2 linked regions of the Homo sapiens genome follow. The protein of the gene in region 1 interacts with the protein of each later gene in a pairwise test. Each region holds a gene or a part of one and is shown on either strand. Other genes may lie near its edges.

Region 1 (3,500 bases):
CATGGACATGTTCACGGAGGTGCTGCTGCTCACGCCCACATAGGAGGGAGTCCTGGGCGGGGCAAAGGTCTCACCAGCCTGGTTGGTGAGCCTGTTGTAGGTCTCTGCCAAAGATGTGCTGTATCGGTTGAGGGTGAGGCCTGAGCGGGCACAGGCAGAATAGTCAGCAGGGGCCAGACTACACAGCTGGCTGGTGTTGGGCCCCAGATGGAAGGCAGGAGAGGAGCAAGAGGAGCCAGACAAAAGGTGAGGGTGAGTGGCAGGAACGCCATTCCCAGTACCTTGGAGCAAGGTGGAGGAACTTGCATTGCCTACAAAAGAAGTTGAAATGTAAAGAATGACTCCACAGTCATCCTTTCCTTTCAATTTTGTAAATATGAGCTAGACACAGCTTGTTACAAGGCAAGGGTTGGAGGAATGCTACAGAGATGAAAAGGAGATGGTCTCAGCTTTCAAGGAATTATCTGGTTGAAAAATCTCATTTCCAATTAGAAAACAAGTTGTTGAATCACATGCTAATACAAGAGCAGAGGTCCAACAAATCAACAGTCCTGTGAAACTTAGAGAGGGTAGTTAACCCTGTGTCCAACCAATGGCAGTGATGGTGCCCCCTCTGGATCTGCTGGCAGACTGATGTTTGCAAACTTGACAGAACTTAAGGGGAGAGGAGAATTCCAAAGGGCTGGACAGGTTGTAAAACCTTCATTGCTGTATTGATGGTGTTTTATATAGTGTCTCAAAATAATCCAAAAGCCCAATCCAACCAATAATAATTATCTGAAACCCAGCATAGCAAATTCTCACTGGAATCTGGGCAGGATGATGGTAAAAAGCCTGAATGTAGAAGTGAGCTGAGAGTGTTACCTATGGAGCAGACCAGAGAGGAAGCAACATCGCTTTCCATGCAGTTCCCTCTGAGAAGAAATCAGCCCTGGGCTGCTGAGAAATATTCAGAGATGAGCCCAGGAGGGTCTGCCTGAATGTGCCTGACCTTCCTCATCGTTAACCCAACAGGAGAACCCTACCCAGAGGCAATTCTGCTGAAGAAAGAAAACAAACAAGATCTGAAGAAAGGGTGGACTGGGGGCACCATCAACAATTTCTTGTGAACAGGACCTGGCATCAGAGCACCTCTAATTTTAATACGAGATTTAAGGATGAGGTAAAGGTCATGAAATATACAAACAGCCTAAGACATCTAAGATTTAATCTGTGACCATGAGAGCCGTTTTTTCCTGATCCATCCCCATACCATGCAGAAGACAGATGGAATCTGTAGGACAATGCTGGTGATGAGGTCATTATTGTAAGTATAAATAATGACTTGTACACTTTTAGTGCCTGAGTTTCTAGGCAGGAACGGGCTGTATATATGACCCAGGAGACTTTGTGAGTTACCTTGCTTGGGAATTCCAGGGATATCTTCAAAGGTCAGAGTCCGTAGTGATGGTCGCCAGAATGCATATGATTCCACCAAGGCTTCCAAACCCATTCTAAATGGAAAGGGTCAGGATAGGGGTGGACAAAAGAAGTCTAGTTAGGAGCATTTGGATCTTTCACCAGCAGCAAGCATCTCAAAACAACACTGATATTGACAGTACCCCCACACTGTCCAGTTAGGATCTTGCCACTGGCAAGAAGAAATGCTTCAGCAATGGGCTAACATCCTGTTACCAGCAGCAGGAGAGAACTGAAATCACCCACCCAAGATGCCTGTTAATGTTCTCAGGAAAACTCAGCTGACCTGAAGGGTGAAAAGCTGTTCCCTTGGGCTAAGGAGCTGAGATGAAGAGAGTCCCTCCTGGCTGCTGTGAGTCCAAGGCTCTGCTGTGATCTGGAACACACCCACTCTCCTTGTCCTGTTACTTCTCCCTCTAAGTGAGGAAGGCATTGCCACAAAAGCACATTCCTAGAAAACCAGCTCTTTTCTAAGGGTCATTACTGCCCATCATTTGGTGCCTCAGCAGCCAGCTCAGGGAAGCACTCCTCCAAAGAAGACTGACTTCTCTCTCAGGAGCACAATCTCTACTACACCCAGTGTAGCCAGGCTGGGCTCCCACCAGCAACAGGAGGGCCATGAAGAAACAGCACTGGCCTCTCCCTGCAGTGTGTGGGAGGAGAGCAGGAAGGTGACCTCACAGGGCTATCTAGTATATAGAGTTACTATTAAATCACAAATTATTTTAAAACCCTGAAATACACTTAATGAATGGATACTTAAAGAGACAGGGTAAGTTTCATATGGACTACTTACATGACATACGTATATTTTAAAACAAGGGCAACTACTCTAAATACATATATCAACCATCTCCTACCATGAATGATTCAGAGACTTCCCCTCTGTATATCAAGTGACTAAGTCCTCTGGGTTCTGGGAATGAGGCCATTCACTCAACTAGATCATTCTCAAGACAGCCACACCTGAGACCTCATCACTCTTCCTTCAACCACCTCAGCCCTAAGTAATTTGTTGATCTAGGTAACATTACACTTTTAATGAAACCTGTAGCTCCACTGTAGAAAATACTTGCTTCCTGGGATATCCAATAATAGACATCTCCTTTAATAGTTTGACTCAAGGTGCTACCACCTCTGGAGTCCCTGCGCCCCAAGTCATAACCTGCAAACTAAGACTAGAGGAATCCACCCCAGAGAGTCATACCACATACACAATATGGTGAAAGCTCTCTAAACACCAGAGGTAAGTGATTTGTGCCAATAAAACTATCTTACACTACTTGTCCATCTGTTCCAAGGCTTCACACACAGAATTTACTTCCTTAGAGTGTTCAGGGTATAGTCTCTGTTAATTGATTTCTGTACTCATTCTGGAGGAATACGCCTACCCCATCTTAGTGACAGAATGATGTAGCTATGCATGTGTGGAGGGGTGGTGTGTATACATGCACAGGCTTGCATGCACAAACACACCTCATGAGGCTGCACATAAGCCTGACTCATCTCTTAAGTCACAGGCTCTGGGGGTGCAGCTCTGAGGGCACTTCAAAGAGATGTCTGCAGCCCCAGAGGGGATAGTGCAGGATTGCCAAAGAAAAGAGCAGAGCACAGAGGGGACCTGCACCTGCTCCACCTGGCCTACCCTGAGAGAGAACAGAATCTGGCTTCAGATGTAATCAATGTGCCACAGAGAGAGAATTATTTAGTGGTAAGGATACTAGATTGGGGTCAGAAAGACTGCACTGGCACTGCAACTCACTAAAACTCATTGTCTGACCTTAAGCAAATTTGCTAATCTCCCTGGACTTCAGTTTCTCACAAAGAAAGGATGAGATTACAAAAGGTCTGAAACCCTTATTAATCCTAACATTGTTTCATTCTAAGAGATTTTTTTTCCAAACCAGTCATCATATCTGTGGCCAAACTACAAGCCAAATCCAAGTTCATGCCACTTGATAGTATTTTCTGTACTAGTGTATTGATTTCTGGGCAGTTTGGCAGACCTGGTCAGTTCCAAACCACATGTTGCCTGTGGGTAT
Region 2 (3,500 bases), on another chromosome or scaffold:
TGCCTTCAGCTCTGCTCCTCCCACGGCTCTAAGAGCTCACCTCACCTGGGACTGTCCTGCTCACTACACTCAGCCACCTCCTTGGCAGGCCCCCTTTCCTCCACACGACCTTGTACTTGCTCTTTCCTCTGGGTGGGACACTCACTCCAGCCCCTCCCCTATTCCTCAGCTTAAACATCAGCCTCTCAAAGACTTCCTCTTGTACCAGGTGTCCTGGCACCGCACTCAGGCCCTCTAAAGTGGAGCCCCTGCCCCGCCAGTAATTCACAAGCATCTATCCTGCTTATTTTCCTCCTAGCCCCAACTATAATCTACAAGTATCGTTCTTGCTTCTATGTCTCCTCTACTGGACTAAGAGCACCCTCAGGTGCAGGAGCCTGCCAGTCTTGCTCATAGCTATACTCATAGCACAGGGACTGGCACCAAGCATGTGCCCAGCAGCAACTTCGGGAGTGTGGCAGAACGAGCTGATACCACATGGCCTGTCGGGCTTACATGGCGCAGGAAGGCATAGGCCACTCGTGGTGGGTGCCGGGTGCAAGCCTCCAGCTCACGCAGGAAGAAGTGGCAGTGGAAGTCCCGCAGCTTCTCCAGGTTGCCAAAGAGGTGGGCACGCTGACCGCGGAGGCCCTGGGGCACATCGGGGCGATCCAGCTCGGGGAAATAGTTCTCCATAGTGTACTCTAGAGCCCGGACATACTCCCGCTCCGTGGCCACCATCTCTGCCAGCACCAGCTGTAGCCTACCAGGTATGGGGAGTCAGGACCCAAGACATCTCTCCTTTACTGCCCTCCCCGCCCTGCCTACTGCCCATACCTGTTGAGGCTCCTGGGGTCAGAGCTGCCTGGTGGAGGCACAGTAGGGGATGCCTGGGGCAGGGCACCTCCTCCAGCCTCTGGTCTGCGGCAGGCAGCAATAGTGGCCGCATGGTGGCAGTGGCAGGCAGGTTCACTGAGACTCTGCCCCAGATTCCGATCGAAGCTGTAGGCCTTCCTCAGGGGAGGGTGGGCAGGTGCAGCGGGGACCTGGCTGACACACAGGCTAGCTGTGCTGCCCACCGGTGGTAGCTTCAGTGAAGCCTCAAGCTTTTGGTCCAGGGCCAGCCAGGTGTCCTGGCACCGCGCCCAGGCCCAGCGGCACTCCTGGCGGATGGCCTCTGAGCCCAGCCCCGTGGCCAGAGCCCACATCTTTCGGAAGTGGGCAGGAGGCAAGTCAGGGTGCCTGGTCCAGTGCAGCTGCAGCTGCTGCAACACAACCCCCGGGCGTTCCTGCTCCAGCTCTGCCAACACTCGCTGCCCCTCCTCAGCCCACGTCAAGGCCTGCAACACCAGGGCCGGACAAGCATTAGAGGAAGATCCTGCCAAGCCTGCTGGGCACTCTGCTCCTCTACCCACTCCCCATCCCCACAGGATGCTGTCCAGGACACAGCCCCAGTGACTGGGTTTTAGGGTCAAACTGAAGACCAGGGAAGAGAACAGGCAGCATGACCAAGAAAAGCTCAGGCTCTGCTGAAGCTGGGGCTGCCATCCCTCCGGCCTCATGGATCACTTGGAGCTGGGGAGACTCTCACCCACCTCCCTGAAGAGCTGAAACAGCCTCTCAGCATCCGCCAGCCGCTGGCACCGCTGGGCCAAAGCCCTAGAGAATTCAGTCAGCTGGGCTCGCAGGGCCAGAAAGCGTGCCCCAGGGGGGTCCAGTTCAGCCGCCTCCCAGCCAGTCAGCGGCTGCAGAAACTTCTCCCCTTGCCTGACCTGCTCCTGCAGAGACAGAGACTAGGCTCAGCCAGCCCAGGCCTGGCGGTCTAGCCCCCAGACTCAGATACTTCCTGCTGACATATCGACATGTCCCCATCAAGTCTGTCCTGTGGTGGAACATCTACCCGTATCTCCTACTCCCCACCCACATCCACTCCCCTTCTCCACAGCCAAAGTTCCTAGAGGAATCATCTGTCCTCACCGTCTCGTCTCGCCCTCCGCACCAGCCCTCTCCAGCTCCACTCTGCCCCGTCCCCAGCGCTTCTCAGGCCTCACTGACTCCAACTCTCAGCGTCATTCAGCCCACTCTCTACTGGGCTCCCCCAGCTCCTCCCCACGCTCCTGATTCTCCTCACTCTTCTCTGGTGGCTCGTCCTGCTCCCCTTCCCTCACCTAGGCCATTAAACACTGGGGATCCTGAGGACAGTGCACTCGCTCTCCCAGGCACTCTTGTGTGACCAACTTCAAATGTCATCCAAACACCTGGACCCACCAAGTGATCCTCTCCAGCTAGACCTCTCCTCTGAGCTCCAGGCCCAAGACCCAAGGGCCCTCCTCTCATCCCTCACAGCCATCTCGAGCATGCCCAAGACCGGACTCTTGAATGCCCTTCCCCCAAGATGACCTCATCTCCTAGTCTCTCAGGGAACAGCACCCATTCATCCTTGCAACATCCTTGTCCCTTACCCTCCCACATGGGTACATAGCAAATCCCATCAACTTCTCCAACCCGTCTCCCCTGCCACTATCCTGGCCAGAGGAGGCACTATTTCCCACCTAGACTACTGCAATTGCCTCTTCACTGCACTCCCCATGCCCATCCTCCAAGTCACTGTCTACTCGGAAACGAAGGCAATCTTCCTAGAATATGGATCTGATTACATGGCCTTCCTGATTAAACTCCACACTGACTGCTACAGGGCCCAGTGATGTGGCCACTGACCAGGCTTGTCCCACCGCAACTCCCCCAACTCTTTCTTCCTCTCTGCTCTGCATTTCAACCTCACTGGCCTTATGATTCCTCAGGCACACCGTCCTCCATCCTGCCACAGGACCTTTGCACATGCTATCTTCCAAGCCTGGAATGTGCCCCCATCCTCAACCCTCTTCTGCCTGGTTGACCTCAACTTATCTTTCAACTCTCAGCTCAAAAATCACCCAAAAAAAGCTTGCCTGACACTCCTGCTGGGTAAAGTCTTGGTTATACCCTCAGGCAGAATCACCTGCACTGATTCTCTCCAGAGATCTTGCCTGGGTTTACAGGCACATATATGACTGTGATTAATTACAACTGATATCTTCTATGGGACTATAAGGTCTAAGAAAGCAAAGGATTGAATTGCTTTCACACAGTTCTGCATTCCTAGTTCCTGGCATTGCATCCCAATACCCGTGGCATGAACAAGTGACCACATATACCTGGGCAACCTGGTACAGCTCCTGAAAAGAGCCTTGGGCCTGGAGCAGCATGTCCAGCGAGGGCTCCCCAGCCTCCTCCAGTGCTGGCCAGCCCACCTGCTGCAGCCACACTTCAATCTGGAGGAGCACAAGCAGGGAAAAGTGAAGAGAGCTGCTATGGACTGGGGGCTCACGTCTGAGATCGGGGCAGGGCCCACTCTGGGCAAGTAGTTCCGACCTGGTGCAGTCCGCTTTCCCGGGCCTCCAGTGTTTGGACCAACTCTAGGGCCTGTATTCGCTGGTTGCTCTGCAGGGTCAGTTGGTGCAGCAATCCATCCACCCGGTCAT

Evidence for each region. The genes of interacting proteins can lie anywhere in the genome.
Region 2: the proteins of TBX18 (region 1) and PLEKHG4 interact in binary tests that used the Homo sapiens proteins (3 or more experiments, as listed by UniProt).

Annotation. Positions count from the first base shown.
Region 1 is NC_000006.12:84,737,099-84,740,598, forward strand, and holds part of TBX18 (T-box transcription factor TBX18), read right to left. Parts: intron 1,494-3,500; coding exon 1,399-1,493; intron 312-1,398; coding exon 1-311. UniProt on the Homo sapiens protein: Acts as a transcriptional repressor involved in developmental processes of a variety of tissues and organs, including the heart and coronary vessels, the ureter and the vertebral column.
Region 2 is NC_000016.10:67,282,532-67,286,031, reverse strand, and holds part of PLEKHG4 (puratrophin-1), read right to left. Parts: coding exon 3,391-3,500; intron 3,291-3,390; coding exon 3,174-3,290; intron 1,758-3,173; coding exon 1,575-1,757; intron 1,320-1,574; coding exon 817-1,319; intron 743-816; coding exon 496-742; intron 1-495. UniProt on the Homo sapiens protein: Possible role in intracellular signaling and cytoskeleton dynamics at the Golgi.